Homo sapiens: one gene and its partner. The protein of the gene in region 1 purifies or fractionates together with the protein of each later gene. This does not show direct contact. Each region holds a gene or a part of one and is shown on either strand. Other genes may lie near its edges.

Evidence for each region.
Region 2: the proteins of MAP2 (region 1) and DYNC1I2 fractionate together in Homo sapiens (co-fractionation; one large-scale study listed by BioGRID). This does not show direct contact.

What each region holds. Positions count from the first base shown.
Region 1 is NC_000002.12:209,731,099-209,734,711, forward strand, and holds the end of MAP2 (microtubule-associated protein 2), read left to right. Parts: 3' UTR 1-3,014; downstream 3,015-3,613. UniProt on the Homo sapiens protein: The exact function of MAP2 is unknown but MAPs may stabilize the microtubules against depolymerization. They also seem to have a stiffening effect on microtubules.
Region 2 is NC_000002.12:171,728,828-171,732,657, forward strand, and holds part of DYNC1I2 (cytoplasmic dynein 1 intermediate chain 2), read left to right. Parts: coding exon 1-23; intron 24-881; coding exon 882-1,026; intron 1,027-3,830. UniProt on the Homo sapiens protein: Acts as one of several non-catalytic accessory components of the cytoplasmic dynein 1 complex that are thought to be involved in linking dynein to cargos and to adapter proteins that regulate dynein function.

The DNA of each region.
Region 1 (3,613 bases):
GATCAGCTAGATTTGTGTCCACACTACCAGTTTCACACCCCCTTTCCATCTGTTTGATACAGTATTATAGATATAAATATATATATATTTCTCTGTGGCCATTTGTGATACTTCCTCATATACTTGAATATTATACTTCTTTATTCACAGTATCTGTGTCTCCTGCACCCTTTGGTGTTGCAATTTTAGATATGTGAAAGTAGATGTTAGCAGGGTTCTCTCCCTATTTAAAAAAAATACATTAAAAAAGACAAAAAATTTTAGCATGAAGTTGCTTTCTGTAACAACTCAAAGCCGTAACCCTGTTTTAGTGCCAGATACAAGTCTCTCCCGTGATGCTAGACAAAAAATTATTTTTCTTTGCTTTCACCAACATGGAGTTTGTGGGGGTGGGTCCAGTTATACATGAAAGGGTTTACAGATTGTTGGTTTAAGATTATGGATTTATCTCATTTTTAATCACAGGATAGTTTGGGGTTTATTCCTATTATTATTCATGAAACCGACTTAAGATTTTTTCTTTATTTTTCTTTTTTTTTCCATTTGCTAAAGTTGAAAGTTGAAACTAACTATAATAGTTTGAAACATGTTTTCTCATTTTTCCAAATAGTATCTGTTTATTAAATTCTCTAATAGAAGATGTTTGTCTTTCTTACCCAAAGTAAAGATCCCCTGATCAGAAAGAAAAAATACAATACTTTGGGAAGCTATAGCTATAAAACACTTGAGACACAGATATCTAAATCAGTTTTTTTCCAAGACTCCAACATTGCACTCTGTAAAGTAACACACTGTGATCTAGTATTATTTATCAGTAGATAATACTGTTCTGACTGTATATACAGTCTAGAACTCACAAATCAATTAGTTCCTCTCACAAATCATTCATCTTAGACTTACAAATAAGGAATGAAATAGTCAATGGCCTGATTAAGGCAAAGAGCTACCAGGCTAGATGGACACTTTTTAAAAATTTTATCTGTTCTTTTTCTTGCTCAGGGCTGGTAGGTTGGATCTGAACCATTAAAATCAAATGGTCCACTAGGCGTATGATCTCTTTGAGCCAAATCAGTTCCTGAATATAAAGGAGGAAATGATGAGGATGTACTGAGGCAACGGGGAAGTATAGAAACATCCAAGACAAAAGCCAAGGGATGCAAAGGCAGAGACACAGGTGCTTTTTGGTGACCCAGTGGATATGGCAACCAGTGTAACTGCCATACAAGAAACCCTAGGAGCAAACCCACACCACTCATTCTCAGCTAAGAGATTTTACACAGGCAAACGTGTCTTAAACCATCTATAAATCAGTTATTTTATATGACAGTCAAAACCTTAGAAACCTTAGGATCATTATATCTATTTTCTGCCTATTAATTGCTGTGAGGTTTGATTTGACCAATCTGGGCAATTTATTCATCAGCTTCCCTTGAAGTGCACCAGAAAATAGAAGAAAGGTGTGTGGAGACTTAGGGTATTTTATTACATGTTTTCATAGTCTTAAATAGTGATTAAATTTCTCTAGAAAGAAGTTAACAGCTCATTAGAAAAGTTTTAACCTGTGAAATAAGTATTTTTCTCAACATTCTTTAAAGTTTTTATATAAGTTAACACTAGGTAAACATTCTGCATACTAGAAGTCAGTTTATTACAAATACATGTCAAAAATAAAGATTATACAAGGCACCAAACTACTAGATTTGGCATTAAAACAAATGTTTATTTCTAATCACAACAAAATTATAATGAATAAATGTTCTTGCTTTGTATGGAAATACAATTCTTTATTAAAGTTAACAGAAAGGAACTGATCGTTTGTACCAGTAAAAGAGAGAAACACACAGGTTAAATATCTTCTTGTGGGGTTAAGGGGTAGAACCTATCTTGCCTTCACTCTCAAGATAACGACTCAAATTAAGCTTTTTGAGCACCACTCTTGTGGGGACACACATACGCTGATCTAGGAATGAAATCTTCGTGGTCTCAATTCTAGATCTACTATGCCAGTTTCTCTCTGGCTTTAGCCTTTGAGAACCTGTATAAGAATACGTAAGTAATCCAGAGCTGTGAAGAGTTTAAAGGCCAACTTCTCCAGTGAACTCAACCTCTGGGTCACTTGCAACCAGAAATTGGATACCTCATAATGATGCAGGAAAGACCCGAGTTCATGATGAGTTTCAAAGGCCACGTTCATTTAGGAACCAACTCTCTCTGGATTTACCTGCTGAGTTCCAGCAGCGTGATGGGCTGACATCCCACCTACAAGTATGACACCTGTGTAACACCAGCTAGGTACGGCTGGAGAAGGCTGAAGAGAGAATGCCATTAAATGGAAGAATGTACTGATTGTAGTGACCTTCTCCACACACACACACACACACACACACACACACACCTACAGTAATACAGCAAGCGTGGAATAATCAGCCAATATATAACATTCCATCAGTATTTTATTAAGGAAATAACCTGAATGTGGTTGATTTTGACATAGCTGCAATTACAGTTTTCTTCTATTTTTCAAGCCACAATAAGGAAAATAAACTACTCATGGTCTAAATACTAGAGATAAAGTAGATTCATGGCTTGGTAAGGAAATTTTAAGCATTCCTTCAAAGATTGACGTGCTAAAATAAGCATTGATGTTTTGAGTTTTTTTACACCTAGGATTTTTAGCTTGGGTGTGTAGGTGAAGGCCAAGACTCTCTGCAGGAAAAAGCTTATTTTCAAACTCAGAAAATAAAATGTCAATCATAAAAATCTACTTCAACTTTAGCAAAAAGAAAAAAAAATCAACAAAAAGTATACTCTGTATGCTGGGATTCCGAGGTTCCAACACACTGTTACAAATCTGTGGGGGGTTTCTTTCTTCTGATAATTCTAGAGCCTGTTACCATAGAAAGGCATTTCTTCAATGGCTGGTTGTAGTTAGTTCATGTTTTTCAATCAAATTTGCAAATGTATTTGTTGCTGTATAGTGATTGTTTTGCAAAATAAAATTGCTTGTCACCTAACTGCTAGTTTTGGTTTCAGACTGTTTAATTGCTTCTCCTCTGGAAAAAAAATTTTATATATATATATAGTGATATAGTGCGTGTGTGTGTGCATGTGTGTAATACAACCAAAGAAAAATTGTGAAAACAAGGCTATTATTATGGCTGAGTTTCTATTATGTGTCAGGCTCTATACTAAATGATTTTATATTAGCTCAATTAATAAGGAAATTTATTTTTATCACTACTGTATTAGCAGGATGCTATCTTTTGCAAGTGACAAAAATTCTAATTAAACGGGCTTAAACGTAAAGGTGAATTTGTAGGCTCAAGTAACTGACTACTCAGGTGTATCTGCCTCAGGCATGGCTGGGTCCAGGCCCTCAAACGACGTCATCAGGAATCTTCCCTTTTCCAACTTTTAGTTTTGCATCCTCTGTGTTGGCTTCCTTCTCAGGCAGGCACCCCTTCCGTGATGGGCACCAGAAGCTCCAGATTTCACAACCTATCAAAGAAAGCCCCTTTACAGTAGCTCAAATCCAGGGTCTGAAAATCACTGAACGATTAATACTTGGATCTCCTGCCTACTTATGCTAATTGACCAGGATTGGCTCACGTAC
Region 2 (3,830 bases), about 38 Mb from region 1:
TACACAGCATGCCGCCATGGCAGGTAAACCTAAACTGGAATTTGCAATAATTTAAAATTCCTCCTTTAATCCCATTGAAACAAATTGTCTTATTTAAGTAGAAATCTGTCGTAGATCTACTTGTTATTTGTGACAGATTTTTTGTGTTCAGGCACATAAAATTAAAACTTAATACCTTTTTGTATAAAAGATAATTTTGGATTCATGATGTGTTTAGATTTTGTGGGTTGTGGTTTTGTGTGTGTGCATGTACTCACGTAAGTTAGTGATAGGCAGGAACATTCAGTAGTTACAAATACAATATGCACATGCCAATATTGACCTATAGACTTATAAATGAGATTTTCAGCTGTTTCCCCTTTTGATTTATTTGGACTTTAAGCATTAGTTCATTCTCCTGATAATTGTACAGTAATGTCACATACATATTTTAAACTGAGTAATATTTCTCCTTCCGTTCTGTCTGTTTTGAAATTGTCTAGCTGTACCTTATTGCTTCCTTAAAAAAAAATTGAGTGTCCAGATTTCATCTCAAATATAGATCACCTTCACTTCAAAGCTTTTGTTTTAAAAGTAGCCCAGATTGTCTCTCTTAAATGTAGGGTATCTTTGTTTCTATTACACCACTTCAGATATTGGACTTTTGAGGTCTGTTGTCAACAGCATGATGTTTACAGTTCCAAAGGTACTTATTGCTTTAGTAGAGTTACCAAATGTGGATGGAATAACACTCAACAAAGTTAATTCTGATAAGTTATGAGCACAGAGTTAAGTCTGTCAAAATGAAGTCAAGGCCTGATATATAAACCTATAATAAAATGTGTATGTAATTGGTCTACTTATAGGAGACTTCTCTAACATTTTCACTTTTATGAAATTAGCAAAGCTGGAATCAGTGAGATGTTTGAGGGGCATCAAGGACCAATCACTGGCATCCATTGTCATGCAGCTGTTGGAGCAGTAGACTTCTCACATCTTTTTGTCACTTCATCGTTTGACTGGACAGTAAAGCTTTGGACAACTAAGGTATCTAAAATATAGATGTCTGCTATTTGCTCAGGTTTCTGACACAAGGTGGTGATCTAATACTACATAGGAATGATGAAAACCTTTTAAATCATAATTGTTTGCTAATAGATGAAGCCTGCTAGGAAGTTACACAGAGCATGAGTGAACTACTAGATGTTGTAATTTTTATAAAAATATGCTAACAAGTATGGTAACCCTACGCAGAATCAAGGACCAGTCTTCCCACCACTTCAGTCTTTTCGAGCATGTAACTGTTTACCCTGAACTGCACTGGGAAAAAAGCCCTGAGTATCTCGCATAGCACCTCATACAGTTGTCATTCAGCTCAGCACAAAAGCTATGCATTTGCTCTTTGGAGAGTTTTTAACAGGTTATTCATAACTACAGTGGCTCACAGAGTTGATGGGAAATAGGGAAAAGAGAGAGAGAAACTGATTTACAATAAGTCCTGTATAATATGGCTATATGTAGTAAACTGGAATCCTTAGGAAAGCATTGTGTAAAAGCATGGATGCATATATTTTTTGTTATTCTATGATAAGCAGTTTAAATCATTTATTTTGGTTTTAATAAACTTCAGTATTTTAAAAACCCATTCATGTGATAAAATGATTCTTGATCCTCCAGCAATTCCAGATAAATGTGACATTGTCTTGACCTGTTGAAAGTCTCAAGACAAATCCAAGTAGGCAACATTACCTCCTGTGATAGACTTGTAATTTCATTTAATCTCATTTTATAATTAAAGTGCCTTAACTTTGCTGTCTAGTTTTTCTGCGGTATTAACATTATTGCTGAGAAAATGCATACCCAGCATCTGATTCTATTTAAATTAAATTCTAAGGTGTTTTTTTTTCTGTTTCTATCTGCCTTATCCTAAATATTGACTTTTTAAATAATTCATCATGAGACAAAGTTTAGAGATCTTTGGTTCTTCAGTTTCTGTAAGAAAACCTAATGTAAGAGATGTTCTTCACTATTTTAGTGAACTCCTAGTTATTTATCAAGTGTTGGCCTTAGAAGTCTGGGATGAACTCATTATTCATTCTTGTCCTTTCTTGATGCCTCCTTTCTGTCTGATAATGAAACAGGTTAGAAAACTTTGCCTCTAAAAGCTTGCCTTTTAAAATTGAGCATTTTCAGGTTTGTCATTAGCAGATATAAAAATAGTGTTTACCTGAACTCTAATAAAGGAAACAGATGCTTAACACAGTGTCCAGCAAATAATAGGCACTTACCAATGTTTAGTTTCTCTTTTACCTCTTAATGGGGATCGGACAGAGCCTGAATACATTTAATAAGTCATCTCTTTCCTTTCTTGGATTGTTCTTGAATTTTTATTCTTCTAGTGAAATTTATACAGTGGGAAAAGGTAGAAGAAGATTCTCAAAGCTCACAAGCAAAGAAATGCGTAATCTAGCTAGCACAGGCTGAGCATCCCTAATCTGTAATGCTCCAGAATTCAAAACTCTTTGAGCGCAGGCATGACACTCAAAGGAAACATTCATTGGAGCATGGATTTTTGGATTAGAGATGTATAACCATAAGTATAACACAAATACAGCAGGTCATCAAATAGTGTGTTTTGTCATAAAATTGACAAGAAAAAACATTGGCCGGGCTCAGTGGCTCACTCCTGTAATCCCAGTGCTTTAGGAGGCCGAGGCAGAAGGATTACTTGAGCCCAGGAGTTCAAGACCAGTTTGGGTAACACAAGGAGACCCCATGTTTACAAAAAATTTAAAAATTAGCCATGCATGGTGGTGCGCACCTGTGGTCCTAGCTACTTGGGAGGCTGAGGTGGGAGGATTGCTCAACTGGCATGTCTAAATTGTCCCAGTCTGAATGAGTGTGGGTGTGTCTGAGTGTGCCCTGCGATAGAATAGCATCCTGTCCATGGTGGGTTCTTGTCTTGTGCTCTGACCAGCTGTGACCTTGAACTGGGAAAAGCAAGTTGGAAAATGAATGAATGAATACAAATTGTCGTAAAATAAAAATTTGTAAGATACATAGTAATCATACAAAGGCAAGACAGTTAAAGGATGCAGTATGAAACCGCTCAGTGAGCCTTCCGTCTTTGTCATTGTTTTAGAACTGCCTGGTGATAGGGTGTGCTCCTTACAATTTTCACTTTGCAAAACATTTATTCCTTGATTTAACCCACCACCTCTTCACCAAAAATTGGGTTAATAATTATCTTGTTTTTATGATTCTTTCTCAAATGTGACCGGGCAGGGTGGCTTACGCCTGTAATCTCAGCGCTTTGGGAGTCCAAGGCGGGTGGATCACCTGAGGTCAGGAGTTTGAGACCAGCCCAGCCAACATGGTGAAACCCCGTCTCACTGAAAATACAAAAATGAGCTGGGCATGGTAGCGGGCACCTGTATTCCTAGCTACTCGGGAGGCTGAGGCAGGAGAATCACTTGAACCCAGCAGGAGGTTGCAGCAAGCCGAGATTGTGCCATTGCACTACAGCCTGGGTGACGAGCAAAACTCCACCTGAAAAAGTAATGATAATCTTTCTAAATTGTATGTATAGCTCACATTTTATTTCAGTGCTTAATATTTGAAGTGTTTAGGGTCATTATTTAGAAATTTGATGATGTTTTTATCACCAGATAAATGCCACAGGGATTTAACTCTTGTTTGTATCAATTAGCCTGTGGTAAAACTGGTTTTGTTTTATGTTGTTTTGCTTAACGTCACAGTTTCCAAGAACCTATAAATGATGTTAAGTGAGGACTTACTGTATTCTAAAATCTGAAAAAGTCCAAAATCTCAAATGCTTCTGGTTCCAAGTA